Linked DNA regions of Homo sapiens. The protein of the gene in region 1 purifies or fractionates together with the protein of each later gene. This does not show direct contact. Each region holds a gene or a part of one and is shown in the gene's direction. Other genes may lie near its edges. The genes, in order: SNX24, LONRF2, FNBP1L and GAPVD1.

The links.
Region 2: the proteins of SNX24 (region 1) and LONRF2 purify together in Homo sapiens (affinity purification with mass spectrometry; 2 studies listed by BioGRID and IntAct, with this or other methods). This does not show direct contact.
Region 3: the proteins of SNX24 (region 1) and FNBP1L purify together in Homo sapiens (affinity purification with mass spectrometry; 2 studies listed by BioGRID and IntAct, with this or other methods). This does not show direct contact.
Region 4: the proteins of SNX24 (region 1) and GAPVD1 purify together in Homo sapiens (affinity purification with mass spectrometry; 2 studies listed by BioGRID and IntAct, with this or other methods). This does not show direct contact.

Annotation. Positions count from the first base shown.
Region 1 is NC_000005.10:122,841,238-122,848,612, forward strand, and holds the start of SNX24 (sorting nexin-24), read left to right. Parts: upstream 1-4,375; 5' UTR 4,376-4,396; coding exon 4,397-4,456; intron 4,457-7,375. UniProt on the Homo sapiens protein: May be involved in several stages of intracellular trafficking.
Region 2 is NC_000002.12:100,284,502-100,291,536, reverse strand, and holds part of LONRF2 (LON peptidase N-terminal domain and RING finger protein 2), read left to right. Parts: intron 1-1,116; coding exon 1,117-1,279; intron 1,280-4,473; coding exon 4,474-4,623; intron 4,624-7,035.
Region 3 is NC_000001.11:93,542,099-93,549,133, forward strand, and holds part of FNBP1L (formin-binding protein 1-like), read left to right. Parts: intron 1-2,008; coding exon 2,009-2,118; intron 2,119-4,743; coding exon 4,744-4,876; intron 4,877-5,248; coding exon 5,249-5,343; intron 5,344-7,035. UniProt on the Homo sapiens protein: Required to coordinate membrane tubulation with reorganization of the actin cytoskeleton during endocytosis. May bind to lipids such as phosphatidylinositol 4,5-bisphosphate and phosphatidylserine and promote membrane invagination and the formation of tubules.
Region 4 is NC_000009.12:125,299,791-125,306,825, forward strand, and holds part of GAPVD1 (GTPase-activating protein and VPS9 domain-containing protein 1), read left to right. Parts: intron 1-2,192; coding exon 2,193-3,036; intron 3,037-5,272; coding exon 5,273-5,359; intron 5,360-7,035. UniProt on the Homo sapiens protein: Acts both as a GTPase-activating protein (GAP) and a guanine nucleotide exchange factor (GEF), and participates in various processes such as endocytosis, insulin receptor internalization or LC2A4/GLUT4 trafficking.

The DNA of each region.
Region 1 (7,375 bases):
ACACCCGGCTAATTTTGCATTTTTAGTAGAGATGGGGTTTCTCCATGTTGGTCAGGCTGGTCTCAAACTCCCGACCTCAGGTGATCCAACTGCCTTGGCCTCCCAAAGTGCTGGGATTACAGGTGTGAGCCACCACGCCCGGCGGGCCAGTCAACTTCTAATGCAAAGATTGTTTCTTTTTCCCTCTCTAGAGGAAATATTCTCCAGATGTAGAGGGAACAATGGATCTTCCTGATTCTCAGTTTTTACCAAGACTCCTTATTTTAGCCAATTACCTTCCATTCTAGAGGTACCTATTGTTCCTTTTGTGGCGCCTTTTGAGTATTGTGCTGTGTAAATCAGGTTGGTTCTGTTTTTCCTGCTGTTGGTTTAAGATTGGGATTTCTCGTTTGCTAAAAATGTTTCTTCCCTTCTATCTGCTTTTCAGCTGACAAATGTCTTGCTCTCTCCTCTCCTATTTTTTCTATCTCTGTGGGTTTTTAAAAAAAGGGAAAAATTACTTGCGTTTATACTGGGGCTAGAAGGTTGAAATTAGTTATATATTTTCAATTTGCTATCTTAACTCAGAAACCTGTACAACAGTCCGGGCGCAGACACAGTGGCTTATGGCTGTAATCCCAGCACTTTGGGAGGCCGGTGGGGGTGAATCACTTGAGGTCAGGAGTTCAAGACCAGCCTGGCCAACATGGTGAAACTCTGTCTCTAAAATACAAAAATTAGTCAGACGTGGTGGCACGTGCCTGTAGTCCGAGGCAGAAGAATCGCTTGAACCCAGGAGGTGGAGGTTGCAGTGAACTAAGATCACGCCATTGCACTCCAGCCTGGGCGTCTCAGCAAGACCTCATCTCAAAAAAAAAAAAAAAAAAAAATCTGTACAACAGTCTTTTTAAATGCAACTCATATTTTTTTTTTTTTTTTTGAGACAGGGTCTTGCTGAGATGCCCAGGCTGGGATTACAGCCATGAGCCACTGTACCCGCGCCTGACCTGTTGTACAGGTTTCTGAGTTAAGATAGCAAAGGTATCTGAAGCGTTTCTTTCCAAATTTTTGCTCATATTGAAGTAATTCTTTTTTAAAAACTGCCAGTACACTAAAAATTAATGTCAGCATTTCTGAAACTTAACTTTCCTCCTTTCACTACTTTCTCATTTCTTCTCTCCTTCATTAACAGAAAATCTGCTTTTACCTCATCACATCTAAATCCTCCAATTTATGCCTGTCCCCTCTCTCTTGCCTTCATTTCTCTCAACGTAACCTTCCCCCTTGATGTTCTCTCAAAGCAGATTGTTAAAGAAGTGAACCCAGCCCCTTAATTCTTTCTCTCATATGCTCTTTTGCCCTTCTGCTATGAGATGACCTTCACAGATGCCAGGGCCATGTTCTTCGACTTCCCAGGTTCTGAGCCAAATAATCTTCTATTCTTTATAAATTACCCAGTCGGTGATATCCTGTTCCATCAGCAGAAAAGGGACTAAGACATTAATCTATCAAATTAAAGATATTTCTTGCTACTTCTAGCCTAAGAATTTGTGTGAATAGTTGTACTGTTTCATTAATTTTTTCCAGAATCTATTGGGATATTTTTTAATCTGACAATATTGTGAAATACATCAAAAGATGTCCTAATGTTTAGCCATCTTTACATTTCTGGGATAAATCTTACTTTGTCATGATGTATTAATCTTATAACTGAATGCTGAACGTATAATATATTCGATTTACATTTTAGTCAAAACTTCTAAATGTTAGTGTTAAAGCAGTTTATCTCAATTTGTTGAAGTATATTTCTACCCAATACTAAGTAAATGTACTTTTAGTGTAAGAATTTTATGCCCAGATTCCAGCAGAATTTTGTTATTTTGCTCCTGAAAATTGTTTGCTTCTATTAATAGATACTAACTGTTCAATGTTTTATATTTGTATTTAGCATGCATTTTTATTAATGTTTTGAGGAAAAGATATTTAGCTGGCCTGTTACAGACTGTAGAGTTGGATTAAAAGATAACATAGGAACAACAGGAAAATACATTTGCCATGTTCTTTTACTTTGGTGCTCTATTCTCCCTTTCCTCGGTGGCTGGAAGACTCAGAGAATTTGGTTAGAAATTTAGTTCTTCTAATTATTAGCTAGTAATTTCATACTTACTCTCCGTGAGCCTGAATTACGCCATCTATAATAACTGAAATCGTAACAATTACCATTTATGGCTGGGCTAATAGACCCTCAAGAACACACCCACACATTGATAGTTTGTATACATTTTCAGCAAGGGAAAAGTAAATTATACACAGCTATTAGTGGAATACAGCAAATGGATATCATTTGGACCATTTATCAGACCTTCATGGAATCACACATTTCTGCCTAAGTCCAACAGGTAAATGGGTGAGCCATGCCATTACCAAAATATATATTTTAGGCTACTAACAGGTTGTAGGATATTATGGAAAGCATATTAAAAACTTGATTCTTGGGAGGCTGAGGTGGGAGGCCCTTGAAACTCATGTTGTGTCTTATCATAACGCTTCCTCATGTGACTGGTTTTTTGTTTTGTTTTTGTTTTTTGAGACAGGGTCTTGCTCTGTCACCCAAGCTGGAGTGCAGTGGCGTGATCTCGGCTTACTGCAGCCTCCGCCTCATGGGTTCAAGCAATTCTCCCACTCAGCCTCTCAAGTAGCTGGGATTACAGGGGTGAGTAACCACCCTGTAATCTGGCTAATTTTTGCATTTTTAGTAGAGACAGGGTTTCATCATGTTGGCCAGGCTGATCTCAAACTCTTGACTTCAGGTGATACACCCACCTCGGCCTCCCAAAGTGCTGGGATGACAGGCATGAGCCACCGCGCCCGGCCATGTGATTGTTATAGAGATGAAATGAGACATTATGTGATACCGAACATAGTACCTGCTGCATTCCACTAGTTTTGTAAAGACGAGTACTTACGTAAGTTACGTGCTGGGTACTATGCCAACCACGAGATGACGAGTTTTTAAAAGCATGCTTGCCCTAAAACCTAGTAGGTAGGGTAGATAAATAAATCATACATACAGTGTATAGTCACCAGAGGCTTAAGGTAACCTACAAGCTGGGCTCTGAACTCAGATAGCTTATCGTCCGCAGAGCTGGTTAGTTACCTCAGGAGGTGCTGGCCAGAAGTGAAAGAAAGGTGTGTAGTCACAGGGCACAGCTAAGGCACAGTTTTGAGAGAAGGGCACATCCTGGAGCTGCAAATGTGTGAGTGCTGGGTTAGGAGGACGGATCTTCAGATGAGACTAATGTAGAGGGGTCCACATCAGGTAAGTTCCTAAAACGAGAAGCTGCCTTATCCCTCTGTTGCACGGCTCAGGGTCCCATCATAAAGTCTAGAGTTTGCTAAGCTGAAATGTCCTCTGCACTCAAGGACAAACGGAGTTAAGTGCAATTGTTTACAGTCCAAGAAAGCTCGCTGGCTGGTTTTTTCCTGGATGGCTGAGGTCACTTCTCAGTGACCTACAAGTCACGTCCACGTTTCTATTCTGCTCGGTGCGCTAACCTAAAGAAGAAACCCAACGTTTACTTGACTAACTTGATAATCAAGCCTCCCCCGCCGGGACACTTAATCTTTTAGGTACCTTCAGCCTACTAGACCCTGGTCCGAGGCACGGGTTCAGTCCTTTTTTTTTCCGTATTCTATTTTTCCCTCACAGTTAAAAAGTACTTCACAGTTAAAGGCGGCATTTTAGAACTGCAGCGTGAAGCCAGAGCGTTTGTCTTAGTGACCGGCCAACTTTCGGGCTCACTTTCGAGCTCTGTGGTACACCACCATTCTCAGATTCGACGTCTAACTCAGGAGACGCTGACCTTCGAATCGAAGGGAATTCGGAGAGTCTTGGTATAAGCCGGCTGGTTCACCGCTGTTAATGCCAGCCGAGAGGGAAAAAAAAAATTCAACCAACCAAAACAAAAGTTAAAAGCGCCACTCTTTCTATTCTTTGCTGTCTGGCAATCTCTTAATGGTGGCGTCTAGCAAACTGCAAATCAAGCTCCAGCCGGAGTCCGCAGGGCAGGGAGCGCCGGGTGCGGCCCAGTCCCCGCGCCCAGCGCGTTGGCGCGCACACCCCGTTTCTGCAGACTCAGGTTTTCTGGCCCCGCCTCTTTCGGGCCCAGCTGATCTCCACCGCCCGTTAGGCCCGAAACCCAGGCGCCTGGAGCCCTGCGCCCTCTGCTTCCGGCCCCCGGCACGCCCAGGGCGCGGGAGCGGCCGGGTCAGCCCGCAGACCTGAGTCCGGCCCGCAGCCTCGGGGCCCCGCGGGCGCAGCGGGGCGGGAGGCGGGGCGGCCCGGCCGTGGGCGGAGCGGCGGCCGCGGCCGTGAGCCTGCCCCCAACTCGCCCTCAGCCGGCTGGCCGGCGCGGCCATGGAGGTCTACATCCCGTCCTTTCGCTATGAAGAGAGCGACCTGGAGCGGGGATACACGGTAGGCGCGGGCCGCGGGCGGACAGGGCCCCGCGAGCCAGGCCTGCGGCTGCTGCGCCCAGGAAACACCCTTGGCCGCCGCCGCCTTGGCGCAGGGGGTCCCCTCGTTTTCTCTCCCCTCCCCCGGCCCAGAGGAAGGGCTGCGCCCTTGGCGCGGTTGTCAAGGAAACGGGCGCCCCTCCCGGGCACGGCGGCTGCGGGCGCCCCTAGCCCCTCGGGGTCCAACCCTCTCCTCCCGGACGAGCTGCAGTCCTCGGACGCGGCACTAGCCATTCTCCCCGCCGCCCGCCTTCGGGAGCCCAGGATGGGCTGCGTTCCTTTCTGGCACAGCTGCCCCCTCAGTCCAGACAGTAGTAGCTTCGCGGCAGATTCACGCTGGCTTCCAAGTTCTGTACAATTAGTTCAGCTGGAAAACCTGTTTTTTTTTTTTAAATCATAATTTGCAGCTGTTTATTAGCCAAACTAAACACGTGTATTGATTTTAGATGATTTCCAAAGATTTTTCTTTTTGAGTTGTGCAGTTCCATGAAATGGCAAAATTACTTGCTGAGCACCTGTTTCATACCTAGGACTGTGGTCACCGAGAAGTGTGAAACAGGACCCCTGCTCTCAAGAGTGAAGGGGAGGGCAGAGACCAGGGCATGGGCCCTTTGAGCAACACGTTTACTAAGTGAATTGTTGGTGGAGATTTCCCAATGAATTCAAAACATTCTTTCCTGGACAGTCATTGCTAGTGGGAGAAATGTCTGAGTGTGTGTACACCTTGGAAGAATTTACTTCCAGTTGTTAAAGAACCTGTAGGGTTGAAGAAAGATTGCAGGGCAGTCTGAAAGATTTGTTATTTTATTTACATCAATCACACACTTGCTAAACACCAGTTACATTACTTTGATGGAGAATATTTTAACCCCTCTCCCCTCCTCTAAATATTACTGGTATTTGGTGACAGTCTGTTTGGGCCATTGTGTTTTCTTAGTTGGGACTAAATTACCCTCTCAAAGGAAGATTTAGAATGAAAAACAGTGATTGAAAAAATAGTCCAGGAAGTCGGTGGGTTTTTAGAATTGAGTAGACTGCTGGATCCAAGTGTTCTGAAACAAGTTGTTAAAGTGCTTTCCTTGGGAAGGAAAATGCAGGGAGAGGGAGCTGTGTTCCATAGTGGTAGTTATTTATATAAATAATCCTTTCCAGTGCATTCACATTTCGTTAAATAGTCTGTATCTTCCTTAAAAACAAACAAACAAACCCTCGAGTTTGTTCAAGGCTTTTTTTTTTTTTTCTTGGAGATTTTATCCAAGTCTCTTAAGCCTAAAACCTTGCTTGTTGTTGCTTCTCCCAGGTATCTCACTTCTCCCATCAGCACTATCAACAGTCATGGAGGGCTTACCATCTTTGGGACATTCATTTAGGATCTGAAGATAAAAAGGCTGCTTGTTAGAGGCGTTGGCTTTCAAAGAAAAGATGAAGTTGATCTTACCGGTTCAAGCTAAAAGTTAATTACCTGCAGAAATAAGCACTTTGAAATAGACCATAATTAAGGCTCATTGCCCATTGTTGATTTTCTTCTATTAGACGAGCTGTGCTTTTCTCCCAAAGCTTTATGTATCTTTTTATTATTTGTATTTATGACCAGGCATGTGCCACACTCCAGGTTGTGAATTAAACTGATGTGGAAGGAGCTCTTTTTTGGACAAATTCGGGAGAGTTTGAAGATTGCTTATGTGATGAGAGTTTGCTCTTTAAATATTTGCTTAAAAAAAATCCTAACTCATCCAGATTGGGAGCTAAACTGTTAAAATCTCTCTCTCTCTTTTTTTTTTTGAGACAGTCTTCCTCTGTCACCCAGGCTGGAGTGCAGTGGGGTGATCTCAGCTCACTGCAACCTCTGCCTCCTGGGCTCATGTAATCCTTCCACCTCAGCCCCTGGAGTAGCTGGGACTACAGGCACATGGCACCACTCCTGGATAATTTTTAAATTTTTTGTAGAGACAGGGTTTCTCCATGTTGCCCAGGCTAGTCTTGAACTCCTGTGCTCAAGCAAACCATCTGCCTAGGCCTCCCAAAGTGCTGGGATAACAGGCATGAGCCACCACACCCAGCCCTAAAATACCTTCTGAAGGGATTTTTTTGCTTCTGTGAGTTTGTGAAGCAGTTATTAGATACTTTTCCCCTCTGCACAACTGGTTTTATGATTGTACAGCGGTTTTTCATTCAACAAATATTTACTGAGTGCCTGCTCTGTGTCTGTATTCTGGGTGTAGGGAATATAGCAGTGAATAAGCTATGAATATAGCAGCTTAAAAAAAACCCCAGAATTTAAAAAATATTTCAGTTTCCTAAATAAGAAGCTTGTAAAATAATGTACACTTTCGTGTAAAAAATATCTTTTTACTTTAGCGATTATGTTTGTGTGAATGTGTGTTTTTAAGAGCTAGGATCTTGCTCTGTCACCCAGGCTGGAGTGCAGTGGCGCAATCCTAGCTCACAGCAGCCTTGGACTCTTGGGCTCAAGTGATCCTTCCCCCTTGGCCTCTTGAGTAGCACAGGCATAAATCACCACAACTGGCTAATTTTTGTATTTTTTGTAGAGATGGGATCTCACTATATTGCACTGGCTAGTCTCAAACTCCTAGGTTTAAGGGATCCTCCCACCTTGACCTCCCAAAGTGCTGGGATTATAGGCGCGGGCCACTGAGCCCGACCTGTGTTTGTGTTTAAAATTTAAAACGGCCGGGGCGTGGTGGCTCATGCCTGTAATCCCAGCACTTTGGGAGGCCGAGGTGGGCGGATCACTTGAGGTCAGGAGGCGAGACCAGCCTGGCCAACATGGTGAAATCCCATCTCTACTTAAAAAAAAAAAAAAAAAATTAGCCAGGCGTGGTGGCGGGCGCGGGTAATCCCAGCTACTTGGGAGGCTGAT
Region 2 (7,035 bases), on another chromosome or scaffold:
CAAGGAGATGAAGGCAGTGGCCGGGGACTGCTTTCCACGGCACTTTGGTTGGGGAGGGCAGAGCTGGCAGAATTGGAATGAGGTGAAGACCTTGTGGGCGAAGGCAGGAGGGAGGAGGAGCGGAGTGCCTTTGAAGGTGGAGGACTTGCTGCCCCAGCAACCAGCACCAGCAGAGGCCTCCAGATAAACGTCAGCTCCTCCAAGCCTGCCTCACTGCAGGGCATGACTCATCAAGGAGGCTCTTATCTGTGGACAGGATCCTGTGTGTGATGCAAACTCCCTTTGTGAGTGCAGCTCTCCAGACCTGCACTCTGGTGCCAGCCCACACAAGGTCATTGGCAATTTGTTTAAAAAAAAAATAGCTGAATGCTTCCTACACACTTTTGTGTCTCTTCCTGGGTTCTGCCTACTCTCTCCCTGTGGGATCTTTGTTTGGTTACCCTGAGCAATCTCCACCCTCTGGTGGGTTCAAGAGACATATGTTTTGTGGTTTATCTGGTTTTCCTTGTCGTTTTTCACATTCTTTTTAGTGTTCTATATTCTCAGTGCACATGGAACTCATAGCTTGTTTTTTCACTTTGTTGACTTTTGATGAATCAAATTTTAAGTGTGGGCTTGAATTCATATGTATTATAAACTGCTCCGTGTGTTGCTTGGCACGTGGTAGCATGAGAATATCACTAGGATAAGGGTGATAGTTACAATCGGAGTGTGGGTAAGAGCTGGGGAGAGCTTTGGAAAGCCGAGTGTGTGCGTGGCACCAGCTGGGCAGTCCTGATGGTGCCCCGCCAAGGTGGCTGAGGAGCCACATTTGAGATTTCATCTCTTCCCATCTCTCGGGTCCTTCCCAAAACACTAGCCCGTTGGAACCGCTAAGGCACAAGTCCTGTCTCACCTGGAGCCCTTCCCCTGCAGCCACCATCACCACTATATTTAACATCTAACAGAAGCGACCATGTGCACGTGTCTCTTAGCGACAATAACCTTGCTGGTCTGATGTGGAGACACTGTTTTGTGTGGCTTTGTATTCCTTTTAAAAGTAAACTCTCATCCAGGGAAAAAGAAGGCCCCCTGCATTTTAAAAATCACAGTCATTTCTCCTAACTGTCTTTTCAGGCTTTCAGAGTATGGATGCATGCTGGAGATTAAGGACGTGAGAACGTTTCCTGATGGAAGTTCTGTTGTAGACGCGATTGGCATCAGTCGGTTCCGAGTGCTAAGCCACCGCCACAGAGATGGCTATAACACAGCGGACATTGAATATCTTGAAGATGAAAAGGTAAGGCTTATCATACTGGTGTATTTTATAGCAGTCGGTCCTCTCGCTTCCCTTTGCATTGTGGAAAAGCTTTGTCAAACTTGTACTGACAATATTACTTAAGTCCTTAATTCATCACTTAAGTTATTTATTTATCTATTTGTTTATTTTTGAGTCAAGGTCTTGTTCTGTCGTGCAGGCTAGAGTGCAGCAGCATGATCTTGGCCCACTGCAGCCTTGACCTCCCAGGCTCAAACGATCCTCCTGCTTTAGCCTCCCGAGTAGCTGGGACTGTAGGTGCACACCACCACACATGGCTAATTTAAATTTTGTTTGTCGTTGAAACAGAGTCTCCCTGTGTTTCCCAGGCTGGTCTCAAACTCCTGGGCTCAAGCAGTCCTCCCACCTCAACCAAAGTGTAGTAGCCCCAAAGTGCTGTGACTACAGGCATGAGCCCCTGCCTTCAGCAGTTATTTATTTTCTCAGTGGATTTTTACCTGAGTTGGGAGCTGGTACAGAAATCTCCTTTTAAAAAAATGATCTGGCCAGGCATGGTGGCTCACGCCTGTAATCCCAGCACTTTGGGAGGCCAAGGTGGGCAGGTCACGAGGTCAGGAGATTGAGACCATCCTGGCTAATACGGTGAAACCCTGGCTCTATTAAAAATATAAAAAAATTAACCATGTGTGGTGGCGGGCACCTGTAGTCCCAGCTACTTGGGAGGCTGAGGCAGGAGAATTGCTTGAACCTGGGAGCTGAAGGTTGCAGTGAGCTGAGATCGTGCCACTGCACTCCAGCCTGGGCGACAGAGCAAGACTCCATCTCAAAAAAAAAAAAAAAAAAAAAAAGACCTTATTGTACTTATGCAACATGTAAACCTGCGCATTGCAAAATAGGCTTTTGATTTGTATTTGATGCTGTAGCCCTGGAGCTGGCAAACTTTTTCTGTAAAGGGCCGGCTAATAAGTACTTTAGACTCCAGAGGCCATGTGGTCTCTGTCGAAGCTACCCAGTTCTGCCCTTGTAGTGCAAAAGCAGCCATAGACAATGTGTAAAGGCATGAGCATGACTGGTTTCCGTTAAATGTGACTTCCGGAAACATGGTGGTGAGCACGGTTTGACTCATGAACAGCAGTCTGTCAGTCCCTGTTCTCTAGGTTGGTATTAATTCAGAATGTGACAAAATCTACAACTTAAAAAATACCTCCCAAAGCTAAATATAAAAGACTTGAATTTATTAACCCTTAAGAATTTTTTCATGTGTCTAATAGAAATATCAGGACATATAATTTGACAAATTAGCAAAATGTTTTGAGAGATTCTCCAACAGACTTACACAAGGATGTCCATAACAGTCTTACTCCATTATAGCCCCAAACCAGGAACAGCCCAGGTGCTGATCACACTTGAGTCAGTAAACACATTGTGGTCCATTCATGCAATGGAATACTACCTGTCAATAAAAAGAAATGAACCACTCGTGCATGAAACAATATGGATGACTCTCACAGACATTATGCTAAGTGAGAGAAGCCAGACACAGGACGAACACATACCGCGTGGCTTCATCTGTATACTTCCAGGAACAGGCAAAACTAGAGTCTGGGGACAGAAGTCAGAAAAGGCTTGTGGGGTTGGCTTTGTAATTGACTGGAGGGAGTGGTGAAGAATCTTTCTAAGTAGTGGAAATGTCTATCTGGTTTTGGGTGATGGTCAGACTGGTGTATACAGTTGAGAAAACTCTTTGAGCTCAACAAGATCTATGCACTTTTTGGTCTGTAAATTATACTGCAGCAAGAAATTTTAAAATACTTAAAAGGAGGAAATCCTTGGAATTATTGTATCCCTCTTTTAAATTCTTTGGTTGACATTTGGAATTGTGGAAGTGAGGGTACGTAGCCACCCCACATCACACTGGAAGTCATTTTGGGGGCAGTGGTGTACACTTAGGATTTGTGAATGGAGTCACACCCAGGACACTGTCTCTGTGCCTCCTCCAGCTGCTGTTTCTGGTCATCCCAGTGCATGGGAGCAGAGCAGGGAGCCCAGCTCCCAGGCTGGACCAGAAAGCTGGGTTTCAAAGCTACAGCTGAAAGTGATAATTCTCAGGGTCTCTCTGTGGGATGGATAGACCTGACGGCAGGGTTTATTGACCGTTGTTGTAGATGACAGCTTTTAATAGTGTATGCGCTTATTTTAAATGGGGGCTTAAATAGCTACAACATGAAATAATTTTAGCTTATTTTTATAAGAAAATCCTCTATCACATATGAATATTTGATTTGTATAAATCAAATTGAGGGTGGTATATGCATTATATTATAATTTCTCAGCACACCGTAGTTTTTGTAGGTACTGGAATTTTGTAACAGGAAAGGACCTTCATGGTTTATTCCTATTATGCAGATGAGAAAACTCTGCCCTAACGAGGCTGTGAGACTGGCTAGATTCACACATGAGAGTTGGTGATGAAGCCAGACCAAACCCTGGCCCCGTGATTCCCAGTCCCATGCTCTTCCTCCTCTACCAGGTGTTCCTGAACAGGACTGAGGCGTAATTTAAATGACAGATGTGATAGTGACATAGGGACCAGAGGCCAAGCTTGGTCAGTCTAAGGTGCTGTGGCCGACCACAAGCTGGAGTCCATCAGCCCAGGCCAATGTAATGAGTGTAGTCTTGCCCTGTCGTGCCTTTAGGAATATAGTTTGGTGATATGGAATACAATTTTTAAAATGTCACCCTTTGACTTGGTAATTCTGTCAAGGTCTCTAGGAAACTACACTGAGGAAACCATACCTCCCTCCCTTGTCAAAAAAGCAAAACAAAACAAAACAACTTTTCCATAAATGTTTATATTATTGTGTTATTTTTAAAAATAAAAAAGCTAGAATATTCTAAATAACTTACGTGAATAGTTAAGTAAATTGGCATGTATCTCAAATATATAATTGCATGCAGCCATTGAACATTATTCAAAATTACAGGAAATGTGCTTATATTATGGTATTAAGAGAAAAATCAGGATACAATTGATAGATTTCAACTATGCAAAAAATGCAGATTTCTATATTGAGCATGTACCATTTTTGTGAAACTGATGAATTATTAAAATGCTAACTGCCACAAATCCACTTAGTGGAGGTGCAGAGGTCGCTGACTGTGTTACGTGCATTACTGTGAATGGTTCACACAGCTGTGCCTCTTTCCCTGATCAGGTGGAGGGTCCAGAGTATGAAGAACTTGCCGCTCTCCACGATTCTGTGCATCAACAGTCTGTTTCCTGGTTCGCGTCTCTCCAGGATCGCATGAAAGAACAAATTTTAAGTCATTTTGGGGTAATGCCAGACAGAGAACCTGAGCCTCAGGTATGCCCTCCCTTTTTCCTTTATAATTCTGTTACTTCCTGCTGTAGTGTGCTGAGCCATCATTCTGGTGGAGAGCTTGGCAGTATGATGCTGGTTACCCCAATGTGGTTGCTTATGAACCAGTTCATCTACTAACAGCCCAAAGGAGCACCTACTGTGGTAGCACATGACTTGTGAAGCAAAACAACAAAGGCTCTCTAACAGAACATAATTTCTTTTCTAACAACAATCAGTTTATTCTGCTTGGCTGTCAGCTTTTGTAGCCTTTTGCTTCTTTCACTCACATCTTAAAATTTAAGTAGTAACTTTATTGTATTGGCATGAACATTCCACGTTTGGCGCATAGCATTGCCTTGCACCTGGTATAGAGATGTTGAATAAGTGAAGAGAAAAATCCCATCATTCTTGTGACATTAGTAGCGTGACTTCCTTGTCCTCTAAGTACCCTGCTGCCCAGCTGTCATGGGCTTTCTCTGGTGCTCCCTACAAGTACTTTTGGTGAAGCTGGTTCTTTAAGCAATGAATGAGCTTAGGTTTGTGGAGCATTTCTAAGCTCAGGTGGGCCTCTCCTCTGCATTAGATGGGAGAGCCAGGCTGGGCTGGTTTAAGATTGTGCCTGAGAGTGTATACCTCCCACCTGTACATGGATGCTCAGCTGTCAAAGACAGTAGGGGAGGGGGATTGGCTCTCAGCTGGTTTAGGGTGATGTGAAAGGTCTTTTCCCATCCATTTTAACTTTTTTTTTCTGTCTCTTGGAGCTTCTATCTTTTACCCCCTGCCTGAATTCTTTTTTTTTCCAAACACAGAAAAATGCTTTAACTGCCAGAAATTGCCATTAAGTCCTTCCTGGCTTGCCCTTTTTGCATAAGCCTTTGTTCTGCAGTATCCTGGAACTCAGATTCAGAAAGCATGGTGGTTACACTGACTTGCATTAGGATATGAGTCATTCTTTTTCCTAGGAGTTGTTGTTTATTAACCAAATTAATCAATCTCTACTTGGCGGGTATATTAGCTTCCTACTACTGCTGTTAAGAAATTTCACGAACGTGGTGGCTTAAAACAACACATATGTATTATCTTTCACTCCTGGTTCTGCAGGCCAGACTATGATCAGGGTGATGGCAGCATGCGTTTCTCTTTGGAGGTTGTGGGGGAGAGTCTGTTTCCTTGTCTCTGCAGCTTGTAGAGGCTGGCGGCATTCCTCGGCTTCCTTCCTCCATCAGAGCCAGCAATGTTGCTTCTCTCCGACCGTTCTTCCAAAGCCACATGTCCCTCTGACCACAGCCCAGACAGGACCCTATATGAACACATTGGGCCCATCAGGATAATCCCCCCATCCCAAAGTCCTTAACTGAATCACATCCTCCAATTCCCTCTGCCATATAAGGTACCATATGGGGGACCATTTTTCTCATGACTACAGAGGGATTTTAGGTAATACATCAATTTTTATATGAGGTCCTTCCCATTAAGCGTGCTACTCAGTTTTTTTCTTTCTCTGTGAGATGAGGCAGGGAAAAGAGTGTGAATCTGTATAAAAGGTTGTTTTCTCCATCTGTGCCTTTCTACCTCTGAAGGGCAGGTTGATGTCTTCCTCACAGTGACTTGGGCTACCCCTGGTGAGCTTTGGCCACAGTGCTATTCCTAGTCCTCCAGCATAATCTACCTCACCCTAAACTAAGGTGACTCCAGAGTTCACCCTCCCAGCTCTTATCGGCATCCTGCACATTTTTGGAGAAGGAATAGAGTGAAGAATCCTAGACCCTGGAAACAAAAAGGCCTGGATATCTTGGTTCCAGTACTAAGAATATTGAGAACGAGTTTATGATCGGCTTTTGCCTAGCACTTAGTCTAGAAGTGCTTTGTTTGATTATGTGAAATAAAGGTTATTTGGTGGCATAATAATTCTTATATATATAATTTATGATAACTCTTGCATATGACATGCATACATATATATGTTTCATACATACACTCATTTGCCACATTGAGTATGTCACTCAAACTTGTACACATACTTTTAGCCTTTATAATATTATGCTTTATATGGCATGCTTAAGACATAAAAAATAATAGCACAGAACATTGGAAAGTGAAGGTTAAAGTGATAGTATTCTCCTCTGACTGGTATATACTCTTAACTGAAAGCTTGAGAGAACAGAAGCAACTAATTCATAGAATCTCCCCATGGAAGATGCTTCTCTTTGCAGGCTCTTCCTTTTGTGAGTTCCCCCACCTTTAAATGTGTACCATAAAAGTAAACTATGTATTTTGAGAGCTGAATGAATTGTGAATTAGCCCTAAAATACAAGGTGGCATTTAATTCTTGCTCACGTGTCTGTTGGTGGAGCAAAAGACTGTGTTGGGGAACAGGCTTGCATTTCCAGTGTTAACCTTGCTTTCCCCTCATCT
Region 3 (7,035 bases), on another chromosome or scaffold:
AGTTTATTTTTGGCATATATATATACTAGTTTTCAAAACTTGTACTCCTTTTCTGTAATCCCAGCTATTTGGGAGGCTAAGGCGGGAGGATTGGTTGAGCCCAGGAGTTCGAGGCTATAGTGAGCCATGAGAGCTATGATCACTCAACTGCATTCCATTGTGGGCAACAGAATGAGACCCTATCTCTACAAAAAACCTTCAACTCCAAAGTAGATTAAATATGACAAATTTATGTTGCAAATTAACCAGTAAATCTAAAGGAACTCAACAAAGGAAATTTCACCATTGATTTATTTAGGCCAGATTGGGTTGATTGATATCCTTGTTTCTGGTGATTGGTAAATGAAAAAAAAAAAAAAAAAAAAAAAGCAACACTTAGGATGCCCTACTTTTTTCTAGCAAGCTTGTTGAATATCCATAATCTACAGGCCACTGGGGAAAGAGGCTAGGGATTCTGTTATTAATTAAATGTTACATTTAATTATAGCTCATCCTAGGAGTGAGTTTTCTCTTTTCTGAAAGTAAGTGACTCATTCTTACACATGGTGAAATAAAGCTATTTAGCATATGTTACAGGCATAAGTGGCCCAAAGAGCAAGATCGTATTTGTTTTGAGAGCTCCTTTTAGCATCACTTTAACAAATTTGAATATTTATATTCTTTTTTCTTTTCTTTACCTTTTTTTTTTTTTTTTTTTTTTAAAAGACGGAGTCTCGCTCTTGTCGCCCAGCCTGGAGTGCAATGGCGCGATCTTGGCTCACTGCAACCTCTGCCTTCCGGGTTCAAGTGATTCTCCTGCCTCAGCCTCTCACGAGTAGCTGGGATTACAGGCGCCTGCCACCACGCCTGGCTAATTTATTGTATTTTTAGTAGAGACAGGGTTTCATCATGTCGGCCAGGCTCCAGTCTGGCCTCAAACTCCTGACCTTAGGTGATCCACCCGCCTCAGCCTCCCAAAGTGTTGGGATTACAGGCGTGAGCCACTGCGCCTGGCCTTATTCTTAGAATAACCATTTTGAAAAGAAAATGAATAGTGACAGGCATCATCAATTTCTGGAGTATATATAAAGATTTAAGTAATATAGGTTTATATTAAATAGATTCAATAGCGGCTAATATTGGTTCTGTTGTAATCTGTAATATAAGTAACAGTGATTAAAATAACATTTAAGGGAAAAGGTGTCATTTGGATCAGATGTTTACGTTTAAATACTAGTACTTTTTCTTAAATTGCATAGTTTTTTGAATATCAAAACTTTAAAAAATTTTCAGACATCAAGGATCTTTCCTAAAGAAGGATTTTATCCTTCTTTCAGTAACAACTGAGGTATGTTATTTGGTTTACAAAAGGTTAATTGAAAATATACACTTGTTTGAATATAATTTCTGCTCAGTGGATAGTTCTATCTTTGGTTTTTAATGACCAGGTATGTTTTGAATGGTTTAATCAGTTGTTCAAAGACTATATGTAGTGTTAAAGTATATTTCATTAGATTGTCTTTGTGAGGTAAGTTTCTTAATTATATTCATATTTTCAGTTTGAACATTTGTAACATTCTGAATGTCATGGCAATGGGTTTTATTTGGAAATGTTGTGATATGTTATATATAAAACAATACCCTGTATAGACAAGAATGTTACGTGTTTCCATTTTGTTGTTGTTGCTGTAAGAAGGTTTACATGTATTCATTATAACTCTGCCAAGATTTGAAAGTAATGTGATACTACCTACCAGTTATCTGTATCTGGGTATGATTTTACTTATTCTGTTTCATGGTTTTATAAAATGACTGAAATTTGAGCTCTTTTCTTCAGTACATTGTTTTCATTAACATATACGCATAAACACACACATCTGTGTAGATTTCTTTTTTTTTTAAGGGGTTGCTTGAGGCAAATTTGAAATTAAACTTAAGATTGGTATGTATTCTTATTTTATAGCAGGTATATTTTAAAAATAAAATTTCCCGAAAATGTCTATTATAATGATTTAGATTCTCTTTTCAGGGCCCAGCACTAGAAGATTTCAGTCATCTGCCACCAGAACAGAGACGTAAAAAACTACAGCAGCGCATTGATGAACTTAACAGAGAACTACAGAAAGAATCAGACCAAAAGTATTATTCCTTTAAGTTTTCTCTATCATTATTATTTTAGGATCTACTTTGAGTGACGCCCTTAAATGTGATATACAGAAGGTTTAAAAATCATATATCCTAATTGAAATATCTTTTGAGAGAGAATTATACTCCTACCCTGGAAATTTTTATGGTTACCCTGTCATAGGTTAGAGAATTTCCTTGGTTGCAGATTTTTATTGAATGCTAATATGCCTTCATTAATTTGCAAAAAATTTCTTGATATTTTATTATCAAGAGTAGTTTCATCAGCACTACCTCTTATACTTTGATATATTTTCATTTTGCTTTTATATATAAATTGATTTCATTAGCAACCTGAGGCTATTTTGTAGCAAAACATTTGGCAAACGGTGCTTGATTACTGACGGCTTCATATTTGTTCACACATAAGTTTACTTTTTTATTTCATTTTTATAAGACGTTTCCTCTAGTTTAATTTTTTAAAAATAGACATAGAAGAATTATTCACGATCATTAAAGTGTTATTACAATGAATTGGTGACTTGCTATGTCTTCACTTACGATAAAATTGGGGCTTAAATTGTAGCATGAGAGATTGAAGTTTTGATGCTAAGAATTAGTGTATCAGGTGTGATGTGGCGCTTAATCATAATGAAATATTTGCACTACCTTTGATTCTCATTCACAGTAGCTGTGTTCTGTAAAGTCACTGTGAACACTAAATTATGGAATACTGAAACATTGCTCTTAGGGAGATACAGGGTTAGGTTCTAGGTAGCCACTGGTCACAATGTTTCAGTCAGCTGATTGGCACATAACCTTTTTTTATTTGTGTTTCTGTGTAAAAACACCTTATTTCATATATGATGTTGATTTATTAACTTTGATTTTTTTCTAATAGCACTGTAACTCATGCTTGAACAAAGCTTATCTAAGATTAGAATTTTCTCTGTAAGGTACAGCCTTCTTGTGCTTCAGAACACTAGACAGCACTTGATTGCCATGCTTAGGGGCTATTTTAAACACCAATATCAACAAAAAGCATAAAAATATGAGAAACATTGCACTAAATGAGTAGATTGCAAAAAGGATACATGTCCAGAATATGAGAATACGAGCAAGAAGGCCAGAGTGTCACTGGTTTGACCACAGTTTAGAACTTGAATGTACCTCTGGTGACTCAAATTTTCCCAGATATCTCCATGTCCAAAACAAGAGTAAAGGCACAGAAATGTGAATGTTCTTGCCATGGACTGGAATTAGTGCTAATCCAGAGAGACTTGGTTAAAAATTATGTGGAACATAATAATAGAAGTTGAGGATGAAGAAGTATAGGACTTGTGAAAAATTCTGAATGCTTTTCTGTGAAGTTCTGTAGGTACTACAGTCCCCAGTTATTGAGAGAAGGGGTAACATTATTAGCTCTGTGTGATAAAAGATAATTGAAAACTGTATGAAGAGTAAATAGTATAGGAAAGAGATTGGAGGTAGAAGCCTTTAACAATCCAGGTGAGAGATACTGAGGGCCTAAATTAAGGCATGACCATGGGAATAGAAAGGAGGAATAGATAAAAGAATCATTTCAAAGCCAAAGTAGGTTGTACTTTCACCTGATTGGATGCTGGAGAAGAGAAAACATGGAGGAAGCTTAAAAAAAAAAAAAAGATTTGTAGCTATAGATTTAATTGCAACAATAAGAAAAAAGTTTAGGGCAAAGATAAAGATTTTGTTTATGTTGATTTTTGAAATGTGAAAAATCCATATTAGAAGTGTCCAGTTGGGTTTAAAGATATGAATCTAGAATTCAGGAGAGAGAGGTCTGGAGATATGCATTTGAAAATCATCTGAAGATGGATGATATTAAAACAATTAAGAGATCATCCTCCAACAAGACTGTAGGAAGAGACGAGAAGAAACCTTTGTCATTTTATGTAATACACATTTAAAGGTTGAACAAAGAAGGAGAAAGAAGGCAGTGAGGGAGATTGTGAGAAAGCAGAGGTGAGGAGGAGGGAAAAGAAAATGTAACCTATAGGAAGTCATGAAGGAAAAGAGTATTAAGGAGTGTTAGTCAATAGTGTCAGATGTTAGAGTCAAGGACAGCTAATTGAGGCACAACCGATTGTAATATGATTAGAGAATAGGAGGTAGGTTGAGAGGAATTGGCAAATGACTGACTTTGGGTGGGGGCAAGTTAAAGCTGCCATTCCTATTTCTAGCAGAGGTGAGTGGGAGGACAATGATGATGTATGAGCTAAGGAACACTGTGGAATAGTGTGGCTGAGTTGGAATATAATGAGTTTGATTTGGGACATGATGAGCTGAAGAATATTCTTCCAGCCCTTGATTTTGTGTGTGTGTGTATATGTACATATAAATAAAATTCCTTGTTTAGAAAGCAGGAAGTAAGAAATGAACTCTGTTCTCTTTTGGTATTCTGATTGTCTTCATAAATTAGTAACTCTATATGTTATCACCTTTATGCAAATTGTCTTTAATCAGGTCATGTTAGACAAACTTAAAAAGATGTGACTCTACTTAAGATTAAGCTGCGTACGAGTCCCCAGAGTCCAATAAAACTCTTTTATCTGGAAGCATATGAAGTTAATATTTAATTCTGGGGTTCCTTCTCTTTTTTAGAGATGCACTCAACAAAATGAAAGATGTATATGAGAAGAATCCACAAATGGGGGATCCAGGGAGTTTGCAGCCTAAATTAGCAGAGACCATGAATAACATTGACCGCCTACGAATGGAAATCCATAAGAATGAGGTAGATTTGTTATTCAGCACTTGTCAAGATAAATTATTTTTATAAACTTCATTATGATAGATTGGTTTTTGTTAGAATTATCTTCAAATGTTTATATTTAATGTTAGGGTTTATGATCTAAAAGTATTATTGTGATGTGTGTTATTTAATCTCATTAAAGTTTTTTATTTAGACCTTTATATAAGATTAAACATTTATACTATTTTTTTGAATCAGCTATAAAGTTGATCCTTTGACCAGTTTGGAATAAAGGTTTCACATCTCTAAGAATTACATAATTATAAAAACTTAAACACATTTTAAATGTAGATATCTTATGAGCTTTTAAACATATTTATTGAGCTCAGTTGTTTGCTTATTTTTTTTCCTAAGGCTTGGCTCTCTGAAGTCGAAGGCAAAACAGGTGGGAGAGGAGACAGAAGACATAGCAGTGACATAAATCATCTTGTAACACAGGGACGAGAAAGGTGATTTTTTGTATTTTATTTGTATTTCTTCTCCCCAGAGTTTTCTCACCCTTTTGTCCTAAACTTTATACAATTCGTTTTTTTCTTCCAAATTTAACAAGTTAAGCTTTTAGTAACCTCAGTCTTTTGAACCTAAGTAATTTTCTTTAGTGATAATTACAGGTGAAGTAGGAAAGTTCATCTTGCTATTCAATCCTAGTTTGTCATGCATCCAAACACAGAGCTAGGAACATAGAAAATTCTTGGAGCTACAGTCTGAGGGCCTAGGCTCCTCGGGCATGGGAAGGTTTCCTAAGGTTCAAGTGGAATTAGGGTCGCTTATGCCAAAGAAAAATTTTACTATCAAATAGCTCAGAGTTTTGTGAAGAAAAAAAAATGTATTGTTAGTTTGGACCAGAGCTTCCAAAAGACACTTTGCTAAGTTTCTGTACCACTTGTGACATTTCTTTCTTGATGTATTATATCTTTTTTTCCAGACTAAAAGTCCACAAATTAGGATTCACCTTAGAGAAAAATGTGAGAGGCCTAGTAACAACTCTTAGTTTTCTACTTAATTACAGTGTAATCTGAGCAAGTTCATTTTTAATGCTCCCTAAGTCTCAATTTCCTGAAATATAAAATGGAGGTTAAAATATCCACCCTTTAGGTTTGTTAGTAAAAAAGTAAATAATACACATAAAGCACCTAGTAGTAAATAGTGGTAATAGTAGTATCACTTCTTGAAAGAGTACATATCTTTAATCTGTTAAGAGATACCCACAAATTACTGGTTTTTGTTATTAGGTAAAACTCAGATTAAAAGGATCTAATTTCTTTGGCATGTGTTATTTCTCTGGCTTCCAGGCTTACTGAAAGTACTGTTAAAATCTAATTCTGTAAAATTTTCCATTATTAAATCTAATTCAGTCATTTGATTCTTCAGCAAAATTATTAACATTTTTCTCTGATTTAAAAAATTTTAAGAAAAATAAATTGTGTTTGTATTACCTGCTTTTTTGGATTTTTTTAAGTTACCAACTTCCCTGTTACCATGATTAGTTGGAAATTTACTTTACTTTTTATTTTAGTTGAGAATCTTTTAATTTTCAGTGACAGAATGAATACTTTACCCATGCTGGCTTAAACTAAAAATGGACTTCATTGGCTGACTTCAGGGAGAGCTTGATCTAGGAGCTCAGATGTTATCCCTAGGACTCAATTTCTCTCCACCTCACAGCTGTGCTTTCTACTGTGTTGGCTTCCTTTTAAGGCTCCAAAGCTCTAGGCGAGTATTCCTGCAGGTTTCGAGTCCAGTAGAAAAGGGACAGAGTGAATTCTCTTCGAAGAGTCCCAAGCAAAAGTTTCTGTGCATTTCTTAAATCTGATTAGGTTACAGGACTTCTTGTGAACTGGTTATATAGATGATTGCTCTGATGGGCCACTCCAGATTCAGAATAGAAACAATCCACCTGAAGCGTGTGAACTAAACATGGATATGCATGGATCCCTTAAGGAATTTTAGGATGATAAATTTGGGATGATGGAAGACAAGGGTCTAGAACGTTTTTCTGTTTTATGTCTAGACCGAGTGATAGTGAGGTGTATTTACTGAATAATACTTTGTGCCTAGAATATTGTAATCTTGTAATTTTTTTTTAATTCAGGAAATTCAGCAAAGCAGCATTTTGTATTAGAAGTAATTTGTATACTTGA
Region 4 (7,035 bases), on another chromosome or scaffold:
TGGGTGGATCACGAGGTCAGGAGTTCAAGACCAGCCAGGCCAAGATGATGAAACCCCATCTCTACTAAAAATACAAAAATTAGCGGGGCATGGTGGCATACGCCTGTAATCCCAGCTACTCGGGAGGCTGAGGCAGGAGAATGGCTTGAACCCGGGAGGTGGAGGTTGCAGTGAGCCAAAATCGCACCACTGCACTCTAGCCTGGGTGACAGAGTGAGACTCTGTCTCAAAAGAAAAAAAAAAAAAAAATATATATATATATATATATATATATATATATATATATATATATATATATATATATGTATTTCCATGTTTTGATATTGTATAGCTATTTTTCGGGTTTAGAAACCACATTTTATTGTCTTAATACCTACGAAGAACATTTATTTTATTTTTTTTTTTTTTTGAGTTGGAGTCTCGCTCTGTCCCCCAGGCTGGAGTGCAGTGGCACAATCTCAGCTCACTGCAACCTCTGCCTCCTGGGTTCAAGAGATTCTCCTGCCTCAGCCTCCTGAGTAGCTGGGATTACAGACTTGTGCCACCATGCCTGGCTAATTTTTGTATTTTTAGTAGAGACGGGGTTTCACCATGTTGGTCAGACTGGTCTTGAACTTCTGACCTCGCAGTCTGCCCCCTCGGCCTCCCAAAGTGCTGGGATTATAGGTATGAGCCACCCTGCCTGGCCAAGAACAGTTTTTAACTCTAAGAATATCAGTGCTGTTGAGAATATAAGCCAGATGCAAAAGAATACATACTGTATGATTCTATTTGTATGAAGTTCAAAAAGAGACAGGACTGATCTTTGATGACAGAAATCAGAATAATGGTTACTTTTTGGGCTTGAGAGGGTGGTATTGACTGGGAAAGGGCACGTGAAAGCGTTCTTGGGTTTTTAAAATGTTCCATGTCTTAATCTGAGTGGTGATTACTGGGTGCATGTATGTGTAAAAATTGTTCAAGCTGAACACTTGACATTTGTGCACTTTACTGTATTTTACCTCAATAAAAATGAGTTTAAAAAAAAAAAAGAACAGTGCTGTTGTGGGCATTGTGGTTTTTTCCCCACATCTTTTAGGCTTATTTTATTTGGATTTGTTTCCAGAAGCAAAAAGCCTAGTTAAAGGATGTGATTCTGCAGGTCATTACATACTGGCATGTTGCTGTTGAGAATGGTTGAGCAATATGCTGATATCGACTTCATTTTTATTATTTTTTAGTACTTGAGTATTTGTAAACTTTCTTATGTCCATAAATAAGCATAAGCAGTTTAACTGTAGCTGATTTTTTTTTTTTTCAGACAGGATCTGGCTGTGTCGCCCAGGCTGAAATGCAGTGGTATGATCTTGAGTCACTGCTGTCTCAAGCTCCTGAGCTCAAGCGATTTTCCCACCTCAGCCTCCTGAGTGCTGGGCCTACAGGCACACGCCACCACATCTAGCTAATTTTCATATTTTTTTGTAGAGATGGGGTTTCACCATATTTTCCAGGCTGGTCTTGAACTCCTGGGCTCAAGTGATCCTCCCACCTTGGCCTCCCAAAGTCTGGGATTACAGGTGTGAGCCACTGTGTCCTTCCTGTAGCTAATTTTAATTTAATCCATAAGAGGGCAGCTCTGGACAGTTTTTAGGATCTACAAACTGATAATTTTCTTTCTTTCTTTCTTTTTTTTTTTCCAGACAGAGTCTTGCTTTGTTGGCCAGGGTGGAGTGCGGTGGCATGATTGCAGCTCACTGCAACCTCTACCTTCTGGGTTCAAGTGATTCTCCTGCCTCAATTTTCCAAGTAGCTGGGATTATAGGTGCCTGCCACCATGCCTGGCTAATTTTTGTATTTTTAGAAGAAATGGGAGTTTCGCCGTGTTGGCCAGGCTGGTCTCGACCTCCTGGCCTCAAGTGATTTGCCCGCCTCGGCCTCACAAAGTGCTGGGATTACAGGTCTGAGCCACCGCACCCAGCCCCAATACTTTTCATTGATTCTGATTTGATAAGAGGAAATTGTCCTTTGTACTTTTTAGTTTTGTTGTCCTTTACTCATTGAGTTGCTGTTAGTTTAAAAAATTTTAGCAATTCAGAGTGACCTCATTGTTGGGACCATAATCAACTCACATATCCATGTTTGGATATAGTATATGTGTTATTATTATTAATACTATTATTTTGCTTGTTTGCTCTTTTTTTTTTTTTTTTTAGTGCTGAAGCTTCCCCTGCTGAATGTTGCCAACATGCCAAAATTTTGGAAGATACACAATTTGTTGATGGGTATAAGCAATTGGGATTTCAGGAGACTGCTTATGGAGAATTCTTGAGTCGATTGAGGGAAAATCCTCGTCTTATTGCCTCCTCTTTGGTTGCTGGAGAGAAACTTAATCAGGAGAACACACAAAGTGTTATTTACACAGTTTTTACCTCCCTGTATGGCAATTGCATCATGCAAGAAGATGAAAGCTACCTCCTTCAGGTTTTGCGATACTTGATTGAATTTGAACTTAAAGAAAGTGACAACCCTAGGCGACTTTTGAGGAGAGGAACTTGTGCCTTCAGCATCTTATTTAAACTTTTTTCTGAAGGACTGTTTTCTGCCAAACTTTTCCTCACAGCCACTTTACATGAGCCAATTATGCAACTGCTTGTTGAAGATGAAGATCACCTGGAAACAGATCCAAACAAGCTAATTGAGAGGTTCTCTCCATCTCAGCAGGAAAAACTCTTTGGAGAGAAGGGCTCAGATAGATTCAGGCAAAAAGTTCAAGAAATGGTGGAGTCCAATGAAGCAAAGCTAGTGGCTTTGGTGAACAAATTTATTGGTTATCTCAAACAGAACACATATTGTTTTCCACATAGTTTAAGGTGGATCGTGTCTCAGATGTACAAAACCCTCTCCTGTGTAGATAGGCTGGAAGTTGGGGAGGTCAGGGCAATGTGTACTGATCTCCTGTTGGCCTGCTTCATTTGTCCTGCAGTTGTCAATCCAGAACAATATGGAATAATTTCCGATGCTCCTATTAATGAAGTAGCACGATTTAATCTGATGCAGGTATGCTTTTGCTATTATTATTAACGTGGCATTTAGTTTAAAATTCAGTTGATTGGGCTGTGGGGGTGGGAACAAATAATACGATGACAGTATTTGTATATTCTTACAACTTTTTCTCAACCAGTCCTAAGTATTTGCATCTTATTAAATAAAAGCAGTAATACTGGGATTTAAAATTATTGCGGTCACAAAACATTTTGTCTTTGTCTGTTTTTTGAGACAGGGTCTCACTCTGTTGCCCAGGCTGGAGTGCAGTGGCGCAATCTCAGCTCACTGCAACCTCCGCCTCCCGGGTTCAAGCAATTCTCCTGCTTCAGCCTCCTGAGTAGCTGGGATTACAGGCGCACACCACCGCCCTGGCTAATTTTTGTATTTTTAGCCATGGGGTTAAAATTTAGGTCAGGCTGGTCTTAAACTCCTGACCTCAGATGATCCGCCCACCTCGGCTTCCCAAAGTGCTGGGATTACAGGCGTGAGCCACCACTCCTGGCCTTGGGTGATTGTTAAAAAATGATTAGCTCAAGCTGGGTGTGGTGGCTCTCACCTGTAATCCCAGCACTTTGGGAGGCCAAGGTGGGTAGATCGTTTGACATCAGGAATTTGAGACCAGCCTCAGCAACATAGTGAGACCCCCAACTGCCCCATATCTATTAAAAAAAAAAAAAATTGGCCGGGTGCGGTGGCTTACGCCTGTAATCCCAGCACTTTGGGAGGCCGAGGCGGGCGGATCACCTGATGTCCAGAGTTTGAGACCAACCTGACCAACATGGAGAAACCCCATCTCTACTAAAAATACAAAATTAGCCAGGTGTGGTGTCACATGCCTGTAATCCCAGTTACTTGGGAGGCTGAGGCAGGAGAATTGCTTGAACCCGGGAGACAGAGGTTGCGATGAGCTGAGATTGCACCGTTGCACTCCAGCCTGGGCAACAAGAGCGAAACTCCGTCTCAAAAAAAAAAAAAAAATCAGAAAAAATGATTAGCTGTTTTTAATGATCAGTTATATCACCTTGGGATGTTTAGCAATTCACTGTATAGAAATGCCTGAAATAAAATTTTTAACTTTTTTTAATGTTTATAAATTTAAAAAAATTATAATATGGAACACTTCACAAATTTGTGTGTCATCCTTGCACAGGTGCCATGCTAATCTTCTCTGTAGAGTTCCAATTTTAGTATATGTGCTTCTGAAGCGAGCACAAAATTTTTGACATGAAACAGTAGGTTTTTTTTTGTTTGTCTGTTTGTTTTGAGATAGTCTCACTCTGTCACCCAGGCTGGAGTACAGTGGTGCCATCTTAGCTCTCTGTAGCCTTTGAACTCCTGAGCTCAAGTGACCCTTCTGCCTCACCCTCCTGAGTAGCTGGGACTACAGGTGTGTACCAGCACACCTCGCTCATTTAAAAAATGTTTTTGTAGAGACAGGGTCTTGCTTTGTTGTCCAGGCTGGTCTTGAACTCCTGGCCTCAGGTAATCCTCCTATTTTGGCCTCTCAAAGTGCTGGGATCATAGGCGTAAGCTACTGTGCCTGGCCCATGAAACACTTAAATTTATTCTTATGGTAGATAATGTATTTGTAGTTTTTTTTGTTTGTTTTTTTTGTCATTCCAGTAGAGATCAAATTACATATTTTCAGAATCAGTAAAAAGGGGGCTTGTCCCAGATATTAAGAAGAGGATGTTGTAATAACTTTCATCATTAGCCTTTAAAAAGAGTGCAGTAACAAATTTTGCCAGTAAGGTACTTGTTCTATGAATTAGTATTTACTTTATCAAACCAGCTTATGTTAGGAATCATTTGCTTTTAAATCTAGGGAAAAAATTATACCTTGATTGCTTTGTGAACGCTATAAGGTAATGTTCTTAATATTAACTTAAGGCAATTTAATGAATGAGTCAGCTTTTACAAATTAATTTAAAAAGCTCTAAACAAATGAAAAGTACAATGTCAGAAACAAATGTATTGTGCTTTTTTTCCCTAATGTTGATATCTTATGTGTTAAAGAGAAATTAAAGCAAAAATTTATACTTTCTCTAACTCTTAATCTAAAAATAGTAAAAGCTGACATAAGGTACACATTTTTTGGGGGATACTATTTCATATGCCTGGTCAGGTGATATGAATAGTATTATGAAACAGATTTTTAGAACAGAATAGACGTGCTTGCTTTCATAGAGACGTATTTGTGAGTATCTGTCTGTAGCTTATGTCTCCCTACCACTGCTTTGGGTTGCAGGTAGGCCGCCTTTTGCAGCAGTTAGCAATGACTGGCTCTGAAGAGGGAGATCCCCGAACAAAGAGCAGCCTTGGAAAGTTTGACAAAGTAAGAATAAATATGATTTATAGAAAATTCTGAAGTATTAGTGAGCCTAACTGTTCTCTTTATTAAATCTTGTCCTTAGGTGATATCTAAATTAAATGTTCTTTTAATTAGCTACAGTATTGGATCAGCAGCATTTAAAGATGATTAATTCCCACAGATGTATTGAGGAGATGCCGTCGTAAGAGAATCAAAGAGCTGTTAAGATTATTTTATTTTAAAAAGTTTTTTTTTTTTTTTTTTTTGAGATGGAGTCTCGCTCCGTCGCCCAGGCGGAGTGCAGTGGCATGATCTTGGCTCACTGCAACCTCTGCCTCCGGGTTCAAGCAACTCTCTGCCTCAGCCTCCCCAGTAACTGGGATCACAGGTGCCTGCCACTACACCCGGCTAATTTTTGTATTTTTAGTAGAGACGGGGTTTCACCTTCTTGGCCAGGCTGGTCTTGAACTCATGGCCTCGTGATCCACCTGCCTCGGCCTCCCAAAGTGCTAGGATTACAGGCGTGAGCCACCGCGCCTGGCCAACTTTTAAATTTTCGAGTCAGTGTCTCACTCTGTTGCCCAGGCTGGAGTGCAGTGGTGTGATCATGGCTCAAACTCCTGGGCTCATGCAGTCCTTGCACCTTAGCCTCCCAAGTACCTGGGCTATAGGGGCACACCACCATGCCCGGCTAAGTGTTTTTATTGTTATAGAGACGAGGTCTTGTTATGTTGCCCAGACTGGTCTTGACTCCTGGCCTCAAGTGATCCTCCTGCCTCAGCATTCCAGCGTGCTAGGATTACAGATGTCAGCCACCATGCCTGGTCGATAATTGTTTAATTTTAAGTGTAGTTTATAAGTTAACATCTATGACATTGTTCAATTAATATAGTTAAATAAAATTTTAATCAGTCTTACTTTGATTAAGCTGTACATTCAACCAATGAAAATTCAAGGATATTTGAGTAAAATTTCCCTTCCACGTCTCATCTCTAGTCTTCATTCCCTGCCCCCACAAAACATTCTTTTTTTTTTTGAGACAGAGTTTCCTTCTTGTCACAGAGGTTCGCTGTTGTCACCCAGGCTGGAGTGCAGTGGCGTGATCTCGGCTCACTGTTAACTCTGCCTCCCAGGTTCAAGCAATTCTCCTGCCTCAGCCTCCGAGTAGCTGGGATTATAGGCGTGAGCCACCACGCCTGGCCCCCAAAAGATTCTTGATGTTATTAGGTTGTTTTTCCTTCTAGAGGTCCATATGTTTACAGGCAAATTCCTACGTACACTATATACTTCCAACCATCCCTTCCTTTCCCTTTCAGAAATAGTAGCACAATGTGTATACTGTTCTGTGTTGTGTTATGTTTGTCTCCAACATCTTATTGTTATTTTCTTTTTTTTTTGAGACAGGGTCTCACTTTGTCACCCAGTGATGCCATCTCAGCTCACTGCAGCCTCGACCTCCCTGGCGCAAGCAGTCCTCCCACCTCAGCTTCCCAAGTAGCTGGGACTGCAGGTGCGCGCCACCACACCTGGCTAATTTTGGTATTTTTCATAGAGACAAGGTTTTGCCCTGTTGCCCCAAGTGGTTTTGAACTTCCGAGCTCAAGCAGTCCACCCACCTTGGCCTCCCAAAGTGCTGGGATTGCAGGCATGCACTACCACACCCAGCTCCAAGATCTTAGACTATATCAGTACAAAAAGAG